Regions from separate parts of the Homo sapiens genome. Here region 2 is linked to region 1. Evidence: fine-mapped expression QTL. A gene starts in region 1. The other region holds a variant in brackets. All regions are shown on one strand. Distances are from middle to middle. Region 1 holds the start of PIEZO1 (piezo type mechanosensitive ion channel component 1 (Er blood group)). Region 2 overlaps PIEZO1 (piezo type mechanosensitive ion channel component 1 (Er blood group)).

Region 1 (5,000 bases):
GCTTTTTGCTGCTTGAACAATTCTAGGACACATACATCCTCTACCTTTGCAAGTCCATCTGCAGGGCAAGCTCCCAGACTTCCCCACCTCTGCAGCAACTTTTCAAAGCCTGACCAGAGGGTGAGACTTGCAGAGAAAGTAAATCAGCCTTTTTTTTTTTTCTTCTTTGAGATGGAGTCTCATTCTGTTGCCCAGGCTGGAGTGCAGTGGGGTGATCTCGGCTCACTGCAAGCTCCGCCTCCCGGGTTCACGCCATTCTCCTGCCTCAGCCTTCCGAGTAGCTGGGACTACAGGCGCCCGCCACCGCGCCCGGCTAATTTTTTGTATTTTTAGTAGAGATGGGGTTTCACCGTGTTAGCCAGGATGGTCTCCATCTGCTGACCTCGTGATCCACCCGCCTCGGCCTCCAAAAGTGCTGGGATTACAGGCGTGAGCCACCGCACCCGGCCTATATCAGCCTTTAAACACTAGACTTCCCATGAAAATCTCCATTTCTGGGTGGTTTTTTTTTTTTTAATGGAGTTTCGTTCTTGTCACTCAGGCTGGAGTGCAATGGCATGATCTCGGCTCACGGCAACCTCTGCCTCCCAGGTTCAAGCGATTTTCCTGCCTCGGCCTCCTGAGTAGTTGGGAATACAGGCGCCTGCCATCACGCCCGGCTAATTTTTGTATATTTATTTATTTATTTATTTATTTATTTATTTATTTATTGAGACGGAGTCTGGCTCTGTCGCCCAGGCTGGAGTGCAGTGGCGCTATCTCGGCTCACTGCAAGCTCCGCCTCCTGGGTTGATGCCATTCTCCTGCCTCAGCCTCCCGAGTAGTTGGGACTACAGGAGCCCGCCACCACGCCCGGCTAATTTTTTATGTTTTTAGTAGAGATGGGTTTTCACCGTGTTAGCCAGGATGGTCTCGATCTCCTGACCTGGTGATCCACCCGCCTCGGCCTCCCAAAGTGCTGGGATTACAGGCGTGAGCCACCGCGCCCGGCCTAATTTTTGTATTTTTAGTAGAGACGGGGTTTCACCATGTTGGCCAGGCTGGTCTCGAACTCCTGACGTCAAGTGATCCCCCGACCCCCTACCCCCTTGCCTCAGCCCCGCAAAGTGCTGGGATTACAGGCCTGAGCCACTGCCCCGCCATCTTTTTTTTTTTTTTTTTTTTTTGAGCTGGAGGGTGTGGGCTTGTGCTGGGCTCTCATGAGTTGCCAGTGCCTTGAGGCTCAGTGGCCACAGTCCCCCCAGCCCCACTCCCTGCCTTACGCAGCTGAGTTTGAGAGCCATGAACTGAGCCCAATTAAACGGTGTAGAGCCCTTTGCCCTCTTTCTGTGCCCATCTCAAGGGCAGACGAAGGCCAAACTGACGTGGCCTGGGTGAGGGTCCCGAACACCCTGGACTCAGACCCTACCTCTCCGTGGCAGGGCGCCGCGGCAGCAGGTGCACAGGCCGTGGCTCTCACTCTCACCGTCTCACGCCAGAGCGACCCGGGCAAAGCCGCGCGCGGTGGCCGGCGTGGCTGGGAGCAGCCCCCGAGCCCCCGTCAGACCAACGCGGATCGCGGCACTGCTGCGACCCGAGCATCCCGCGTGCTCCCTCCGGGACCACTAGGCCCGGCCGCCGCGGGAACTCCGAGCCTCCCCACGGTCCCCAGGGGGCGCTGCGTGCTCGCGCCTCGGGGAGCAAAGCGAAAGTCGCTCGGGCACGCGGGGTGCAGTTGCGCGTGGGGCGCTGCCTGGGGGAGCCAGAGGCCCCGGGACCCCTTATGTAGCGCCCGGGCCCCAGCCGCAGCCCACCCAGCGAGAAGCGCCCCTGCCCACCGCCGCGCACGCTCGGAGCCGCGGGGCCAAGACTGCGGGAGGGGAGGGGTCCGCTCCGGGCCAGCGCCAGTCGGGGGTCTCCAGGCCCCAACGCACCAGGGCGGGCCGGAGGCGGGACGGGCCGCGCGGGACAGCGGAGGGGGTGCCTGGGCGCGCCGGGCCGTCGGGGAAGCGCGGAGGCGGGCACGCCGGGGAGGGCGGGAGGGGGCCGAGCTTATAAAGGCCCGCGGGCGGAGGAGGGCGGGAGCCGCCGTCCGGCCCAGCTCGGCCCCAGTGAGCCGAGCGCTGCGCTCCGCCGAGGGGCAGGGCGGTCGCCTGAGCGAGCGCGGGCCCGGGACGTCGGCACCGGCGGGGCGGCCGAAGGAGAAGGAGGAAGAGGAGAAGGCGGCGCGCGGGTCCCCGCGGGTCAGCCATGGCGCGCCGGCCCCGGGGCCCCCGCACCGCCCCATAGCGCCGCGGCGTCCGCTCGGTCTGGGCCGGGCCCTGGGCCCTCCAGCCATGGAGCCGCACGTGCTCGGCGCGGTCCTGTACTGGCTGCTGCTGCCCTGCGCGCTGCTGGCTGGTGAGTGGGGGGCGGGCGCCTGGGGGCGACGGGAGGGGGCTGCGTCTCGGCTCCCCACGGCCTGGACACCGGACGACGCCGGCCGGGGCGAGGGCTGCGGGCGAGCGGGCGCGGAAATTCCCAGGGACGCGCGACCCGGGCGCCCGCATTCCTGAAGCATGAGCGCGCCAGGCGGCGGCGGGGCTCCTGTCCCAGGGCCGGGCTGGAAGGGCGGCGGCGGCTGGGGGAGACGGCACCGCGTGCCCACGGGGGCGGTCGAGCGAGCGCCGGGCATAGCGCGGCTGGCGTCTCCGCCGGGGCGCTGCGGAGAGGAGGCCGCCGGGCGAGGCGGTGTTTGCCCCGGTGGGAAGGGCCGCGGCGGTGGTGGGGGGAGCACGAATCTCTTTTTCTCTTTCGGGTTTAAAAAAAAAAGCGCAAAGTTGCATCAGGACTTCCTGACAATCTGGGAGAAGGCGGGCTTCCTGCCTGGAGCTGTTTAATTTGGAGCTTCCCGAGCCCAACGAACGTCCGTGCCCAGGGCCCAGCCCCGCTCACCGCTGCACCCCCCTCTGCCGGACTGAGGCGGTCCCACACTTTGGAAAAAAATAGTGTGGGTTCCTCCCTGGTCCTCCCTTGCCCTACTGGGCTCAGTTTCGCAGGGGCGGGGGCCGGCCTCTGCCCTGGTCTGGGGGAGGGGACACCCCCGGAGGCTGTGGCCTGGTGTCAGGGCGGGGCAGGGGTCCCCAGTCCTGGCATCTGTGTTCCCTGCTTGCCGGGCAGTGGTGCCCCTTTCGCGAAGCACACCCGGGTGGCTTGGTGCTGCACGGCCTGGCACCCCTACCCTTCCCCGACCCTGGCCTAGCCGGGACCCAGGGTCCGCGCCCTCCGCCCGGGGGCTCCCCACGTGTGATTGATCTGGGAAGCAGTCGGATGGAATTAACCCACGGACAAGTGGGACGGTTTGCATTGGGAGTCCGCCATGGACACGGCAGGTGGGGCCTTTTGATTGTAAAAGCCCTTTCGGAGCCCTTGCCTCGCTCCAGGTGGGAGCTCGCCCAGCGCTAGCTTTGGGGATCTAGAGCCGCCTGCCTGAGGCTCCCAGACAGACTGCGTTTTGATCGGTCGCACAGAAAGGTGGTGAAACTTGGGGAAGATTTTCTAGACAGGAATCAATGAAAACCATTGAGGCTGGAGAGGAGAGGTTTTGAGCAACTCTCTTCAGTGCGGTCAGCCCTGTGTGGACTGGGCAGCCTGGGACCTGCTCCCAGTGCAGGGTCAGATGGGCCGTAAACAGGGCCCGGCTGTGTTCCTTCCTGTGCCTTGAAAACAAGCAGGACAGCCTGGCACAGAGGCAGAGTCTAGAGCTGACAGGCCTTAGAGAGGGAAACAGGAAAGCTTCTGAAACGTCCCGTTCACACTGATCGTTCCATTTCCTCTTGTGTCTGAGTGGGAGCGGGTGTCCTCCCTGCAGGGAATGCCCCCCCTCTCAGATGGCAGCTGCTCCTTGGGCAGAGTTGGCAATGTTTTTCTTTAAATGACCAGATGGTAAATATTTTCATGTCACAAAATCTTCTTCTTCTGGTATTTTTCCAGCCATTAAATGTAAAAGCCCTCCTGAGTTCATGGGCTGTACCTAAACAGGTGTTGAGCCCGATTCTGTGGCACATGTGGTTTGCTGCCCCCTGGGCATTGGTCAGGGGGCCTGGGTTCTGCCTTCTCGATTGCTATCCGCGTGGGGGATCTGGGGGAGGGATCACTGTTCTTCTTGCTTTTGGCCTCCTTGGGGAGGATGGGGAGGTAGCCCAGGGGTGCTCACCCAGGCCCCGTGTCAGTCTTCTATGAAACTTTTAAAGAATAGTGATGACTGACTGTCTGTCTGTATGGTACTTTCCTTAAACCTAAAACTGGTCCCAAATAAAGTCTCTTAATTTGAAAGATGCTGAAGCCCGGGCCATACCCCACACTGATTCTGTGTCTGGGGATGGGGCGTGGGGCCTGGGCCTCACTCAGTGTTTTCTCTCAGTCACCTGGGGGAGATGGAAGTGGAGCCGGCCAAGAACCCTGCCTGCCTGCCTGCTGGCCGGGACTCCTGAGTCAGGCTCTCTGGCCCTGGGGTGTGGGCAGCTCCAGATGGACCCGCGATGTGCAGGTTCAGCTGGCCTGGCCGGAGGTGGGACACTGGCTTTGCTGTCTTTGGAGTGCCCCCTCCCTCTCTGGCGAGCTTTGGCTGGAAGCAGTTCTACCGTGTTTTGGAAATGAATGAGGCCTTCAGAAGGCATTAGTCAGTGTGTGCCTGCGCTGGCTCAGACAGTGCCTGGTGAGGGTTTGAGTCATCCTGGGGTGCCCCTGGCCCCCACGCCCTCCCTCTCCAGTGCAGGATCATTACCCAAAAATCTGGCAGGGAGCTGCCCCACCCACAGGGAGCAGGGGCCTCCTTCAGCAGTCTCACCTAATGTTGCTGGAGCCTTGGGGGATCAGGGCCCATCTCTTCTAGAGAGATGTCAGGGCAGGGCTGGGCGCGATGGCTCACACCTGTAATCCCAGAGCTTCGGGAGGCCAAGGTGGGAGGATTGCTTGAGCGTAGCCATTCGAGAGCAGCCTGGGCAACGTAGAGATCCCCATCTCTATGAAAAATATTTAAA
Region 2 (5,000 bases), 39 kb after region 1:
CCTACCTGCCCTGTGGGGGCCATGTCCATTTTGTGCCCACGTTTTAGGAGAGCGCGTTTTGGAGCAAACACTCAGAGACCTGTCCCCAAAGGCCATGGGCCAAACGTGGGTGGGGCCGGGCCCTCCGCTGGTCTTTGGGTTTGGAGGGTGAAGAGCCACTGAAAGGAAGGAAGGTCCCCAGGGAGGGCAAGTGTAGGCAGCAAGAGACCTTCCCCAGCAGAGGGCAGAGAGGAGGCCAAGCAGGACCAGGGGGCGTGACTGTGGAGACAGGCTCTTGGGTGCCGCCCTTCTGGGAGGTGCTGGACGCATCAGGCTGGCAGCGTCGGGGCCTGTCCATGGCTACGAGGTGTCCACCGGGCTGCGTTTTTCCAGGGGACTCTGGGGAGGATCTGCTTCCTCTTCCAGCTGCTCCAGGTGCCTACCTTCCTGGGCTTGGGGCCCCTCCCTCCATCTCCAGAGCCGGTGGGGTGGGGTCAGGATCACACCCTGTCTCTCCTGCTCCCTCTCCCCTGCGGTAACCCTGTGGCTTCGTCCCATCTGCCTCCCCGGCTAATCCAGGCCGACTTCCCTGGTTTAAGGTCAGCTGTTGGGCAGCCCCCATTTCCTCTGCTGCCTGGACTCGCCTCTGCATGTGAGCTTCTGCGTTCACAGATTCTGGGGACTGGGGTGCAGGCATCATTGGGGTCCATCGTTCTGCCAGCTGCAGGTGGAAGGTCGCTCTCCGGCCTCGCGACATCTGGCTGGAAGCATCCCAGAGGCTCCTCCTAGCTCGTGGTGCTGTGGGGTGGGCAATGGTCTTTTTTATTTATTTTTTTTGAGATGGAGTCTCACTCTGTCACCCAGGCTGGAGTGCAATGGCACGATCTGGGCTCACTGCAACCTCCGCCTCGCGGGTTCAAGCGATTCTCCCGCCTCGGCCTCCCGAGTAGCTGGGATTACAGGCGCCCACCATCATGCCTGGCTAATTTTTGTGTTTTTGTAGAGACAGGGGTTTTACCATGTTGGCCAGGCTGGTCTTGAACTCCTGACCTCAGGTGATCTGCCCACCTCGGCCGAGACTACAGGCATGAGCTACCGTGCTTGGCTTTTTTTTTTTTTTTCGAGTGGGGGTCTTGCTTGGTTGCCCAGGCTGGAGAGCAGTGGCATGATCATGGCTCACTGCAGCCTCCACCTCCTGGGCTCAAGCGATCCTCCTGCCTTAGCCTACCAAAGTGCTGAGATTACAGGTGTGAGTCACTGTGCCCAGCGCAGGCACTGATCTTGGATCATGGGTAGAATTCAGGGGTGCAGAGAGGCATTTTGGGAGGGGCCCAGTGCGGCCGAGTGCTGGGAGTCGCTGGGGCCCGAGGCCCAAACCCCTCCAGGATGCATGGCTGGGGTGGGTGGGCACCCCCACTCCCGGTCCCTATCCTGGGCCTCCCCTTTGCTCTGTGGAGCCGGTTCTGTCTGTTCCCAGGCCCCTGGCGTTTCGCCGTTTGTTCCGTAAATATTTCATGCCCAGGGCGCAATTGGAAACACTTTCCTTTAATCAGCAGTGGGGGAAGGCAGGCGCCCAGCCAGGCCAGGGGAGGAGCTGGGGTGGGAAGATTTGGAGAGGACCCGGGAGGACTTCCCTGCCTGAGCCTCGTCAGAGGCCCTTCAGAGACGGAGATGCTGCCCAGTTTTCCGGGAGGGAGAGAGGAAAGTGTGAGGCTTGCCCGAGCCGAGTGCCCGGGGCTTTATGATTTGTGCAGCTGCTGGGCTTGGCGTGGCCCTGGTGGAAGCTCTGACGCCATCTGAGCCTTGGTCCCCTTGTAGGCGTCAGCCTGATCCTTGGGGGGCTGGAGGTTGAGCTCAGACTGAACAGGGAGGAGAGGGGTAGGGGCTGGGGCTGGGGCAGAGGGAACAGACCCTGGTGCTCCAGGCAGGGCTGCAGGCAGAGCCACAGGGGGTGGCTCCCAGAGACCTGCTTGTCATTTAGGGACTCAGAAGCCCCATCCTGCCTTAGGATAAAACCCACCTCCAAGACTGACCCTGCTGTCTGGAGAGAGATCACCCCCCACCTCTTACCATGCCCCGTGCAGGGAGGCCCTGCCACCCTCTCCAGCTTCACTGGTCCCCCGGCTCTGCCAGCCTTGTGTAGTCTCCATCCTCTGTCTCAAAAGGCCCCTCTCGTGGCCCTACCCCGCAGCTCAGCCCTAGCTGTCGCTGGGTGGGCCTCATGGCTCAGCCTCAAGGCACCCTGGGTCCCTTGGCTGGTCCCATGCACACCCCATGGATCAGGTTCCAGGGGGCTCCCATGCACACCCCACGGATCAGACTCAGGGCAACTCCACACTCCCCACAGAACAATCAGGCCCAGCCCTTGTCCGGCAGGTGTGGGGATGGTGGCTATGGACCACGCATCAGGATGCTGCCGTGGTGGGGCCCCT[C/G]AGCCTTTGCAGGCCGTGCCGGGGTCCAAGGGCTCCGGCTCTGGGGGAGGTCCATGCTCTGTCAACCATCCGGTCTGCAATACCCTGGGGCCTCCCCGCCCCTTCCTGTTTCCTCCTGAGAGCCCTGCAAGCTGGAGGGGGAGCCCCGGCCCCTTTTTTTTTTTTTTTTTTTGAGACGGAGTCTTGTTCTGTTGCCCAGGCTGGAGTGCAGTGGCGCGATCTCAACTCACTGCAACCTCCGCCTCCTGGGTTTAAGTGAAAGTGATTCTCCTGCCTCAGCCTCCTGAGTAGCTGAGATTACAGGTGCCCATCACCACGCCTGGCTAATTTTTGTATTTTCAGTAGAAACAGGGTTTCACCATGTTGGCCAGGCTGGTCTCAAACTCCTGACCTGAGGTGATCCACCCACCTCGGCCTCCCAAAGGTGTGAACCACCACGCCAGGCCCCCTGCACCTTCTTCTGGGTGGGCAAGAGCCATGCTGAGCCCCTCCCCTGCCATGGATAGGGGTGGCAAGAATAGTCCATTCCCCATGGGCTCCCTCCGGCAGGCAGCGGATGGGTTGGGGCCCACACAGTGGTTCAGGAAAGGCTGAAGGGCGGTTGCCGGCCAGAGCTGGGCGGGTCCCTGGCCTGAGCCTCCTCTCACTCCCTTTCCCAGGATGGAAAGGCCACTGTGAGCTGGGTGTGTCCTGCCAGGAGGGAGTTGGAGTCGGGGGCAGGAGACCCACTGGGTCTCCTGGGCTCCTGGAAGAGGCAGCAGTGGGTCCCTGCGGAGGTGGCCTGATCCCCGGCTCAGCCTGGTTTTCCCAGCTTTGCATTTGGGGGTGGGACCTGCAGGGGGAGAGTGACGGGGTGGGCGGGGACAGGGGCTGCAGGTGGAGGCACGAGAAAGCCACCCGACCCCTTGAGGTCATGCTGTTTGCGTCGGAGAAGAGGGCCGGTGTCAGGGTGCCCCCTCGGCCTCTGTGTGCACCTCCCCGCTCCCCGCCCCGTGCAGGTCAGCAGAGCCTCGATCCCTCTGCACGTTCCGGCCCCCTCCCATCTCCAGCAGCGTCTCTTCCCGGGGTGCCCCTCGGACTCTCAGCTCCCTAGTCTGATCCAGCCCAGGCAGGGAGCGGGCGTGCCACGTGGCCAGGAGTGGCCTCCAGGCCCAGCTGCGGCCCCTTCGACCCTGCGGAGGGATCATGGCCCAGCTGTTCTAACATGGCCAGACCAGGACACTCTGGCCGGCCCGAGAACTGAACCGGGAAGGAGGCAGGGAAAGGGGAGGGAGGAAGACAATGGGGAAGCAGTGACATCCGAGATGTAGCCAGAGACGGACATCCTGGACTGTCGTGCAGGGCAAGGCGGGTGGGCGGGAGCCAGGTGGCCTGAGAGCCCCTCCCTGCCCAGGGGTCTCTGGTCAGGCAGTTCCTTCCCGGGCTGCTGGATCGTGTGTGCAGGGAACCCGTCAGCCTGGCTGCCCAAGGGCCCAGATGTCCTCTCAGTGCCCGGGGGTCCTTGACAGCCCCAGCAGGAGCCCCACGTGCCTGTGGGGCAGGCCCCGCAGGTCCCTCTCTGTAGGACTCAGAATACCTTCTCCAATGCCACGTGCTCTCCCTGAGTGCCCAGTGCCACAGAGGGCCCCGCTGGCGAGGTTACTTCAACGTCAGGCTAGAGGGTGCAGCGAGCAGGACTCACAGCCCAGGTTCCCAGGCAGGTGTGGCAGGAGCCCATTCCCTGGGTCGGTGTTCTCATGTCACCCCACGGTGACCCTGCTGTACAGAGGCGGGGGCGCGGGGCCCCTGGCTGGTGCCCTCCTGCTGCCAGACTTGTGCTCTGCTGAAGAGGGGCTGGCGCGGCAGGTATGAGCCCGGCACGGAGGTCGTGAGCAGTGAGAAGCCTGGCACCTATGGGTTCGGGGCAGGGAGGCCCTGGAAGGTCCTGTCCTCCGGGAGCCCTGCACAGCACCCCCTGGTGGTGGCTCCTGTTCGTGTCGGGGCTGCAGCCTCCCTTCCTGGACGGTTTTCCATTCCTCCTTCCCACTCTCCCTGCTGCTCACCCCTCCCATCCTCCACAGGTCAGAGGTCATAGCTGCAGGGTCAGCAGGTCAGGGCCTGGGGCAACCCTAGGAAGGTGTGAGTGTGAGAAGCTGGTCCAAACCTGCCTCGGCTGCCTGGTGGTGCGGACAGGGAGTCCTGGGCATCCGTGAGGGCTGCTTCACGGTCAGGCTTAGGGATGTGCAGGGTGACTTGGACGTGGGTCATGAGTCTTTGCTCCAGAAAGAGGGGGCTGAGTGTCCAAGGCCAATCCCGAGTCTGTCACCTAACACCATTTGTGCTCAAAAAACTGAACAGAGTGGACACAGGCCCTGAGTTTGCGCCCCGAGGCCGAGAGAGGGCAGATGTGGTGGTGACATTCACCACCTTGGACCCAGACCCAGATGCTACCTGTCCCTGAGCTCCAGGAAGTTGTGAGAAGGGCCTGAGCTGTTCTGCACTTTCTCGTGGCCGGGCGTGGCTGGTGGTGCAGGAGTTGCTGCCCCAGGGTGAGGGCCCGGAAGCTCCTGCCAGCACGTGCCGGGGTGGAAAGGGAAGCTGTCCACAGCC

Evidence for each region.
Region 2: its variant is fine-mapped to the expression of PIEZO1 in skeletal muscle (GTEx, PIP 0.92).

Annotation. Positions count from the first base shown.
Region 1 is chr16:88,782,280-88,787,279 of GRCh38, reverse strand. PIEZO1 (piezo type mechanosensitive ion channel component 1 (Er blood group)) reads left to right here and starts at 2,060. Exons shown (of 51, transcript NM_001142864.4): 1 at 2,060-2,379. The coding sequence starts at 2,316. RefSeq lists silencers at 1,562-1,891, 1,932-2,411, 2,912-3,231 and an enhancer at 1,916-2,829.
Region 2 is chr16:88,743,332-88,748,331 of GRCh38, reverse strand. All of the region lies in intron 2 of PIEZO1 (piezo type mechanosensitive ion channel component 1 (Er blood group)), which reads left to right. PIEZO1-AS1 (PIEZO1 antisense RNA 1) reads right to left here. Exons shown (of 3, transcript NR_120387.1): 1 at 4,842-5,000; 2 at 3,988-4,740; 3 at 2,584-3,243. Among named protein-coding and RNA genes, the nearest start is that of PIEZO1-AS1, 3.1 kb to the right of the region's middle. RefSeq lists a silencer at 2,705-2,764 and an enhancer at 3,782-4,468. The variant C/G (reference allele first, on the strand shown) is at 2,412.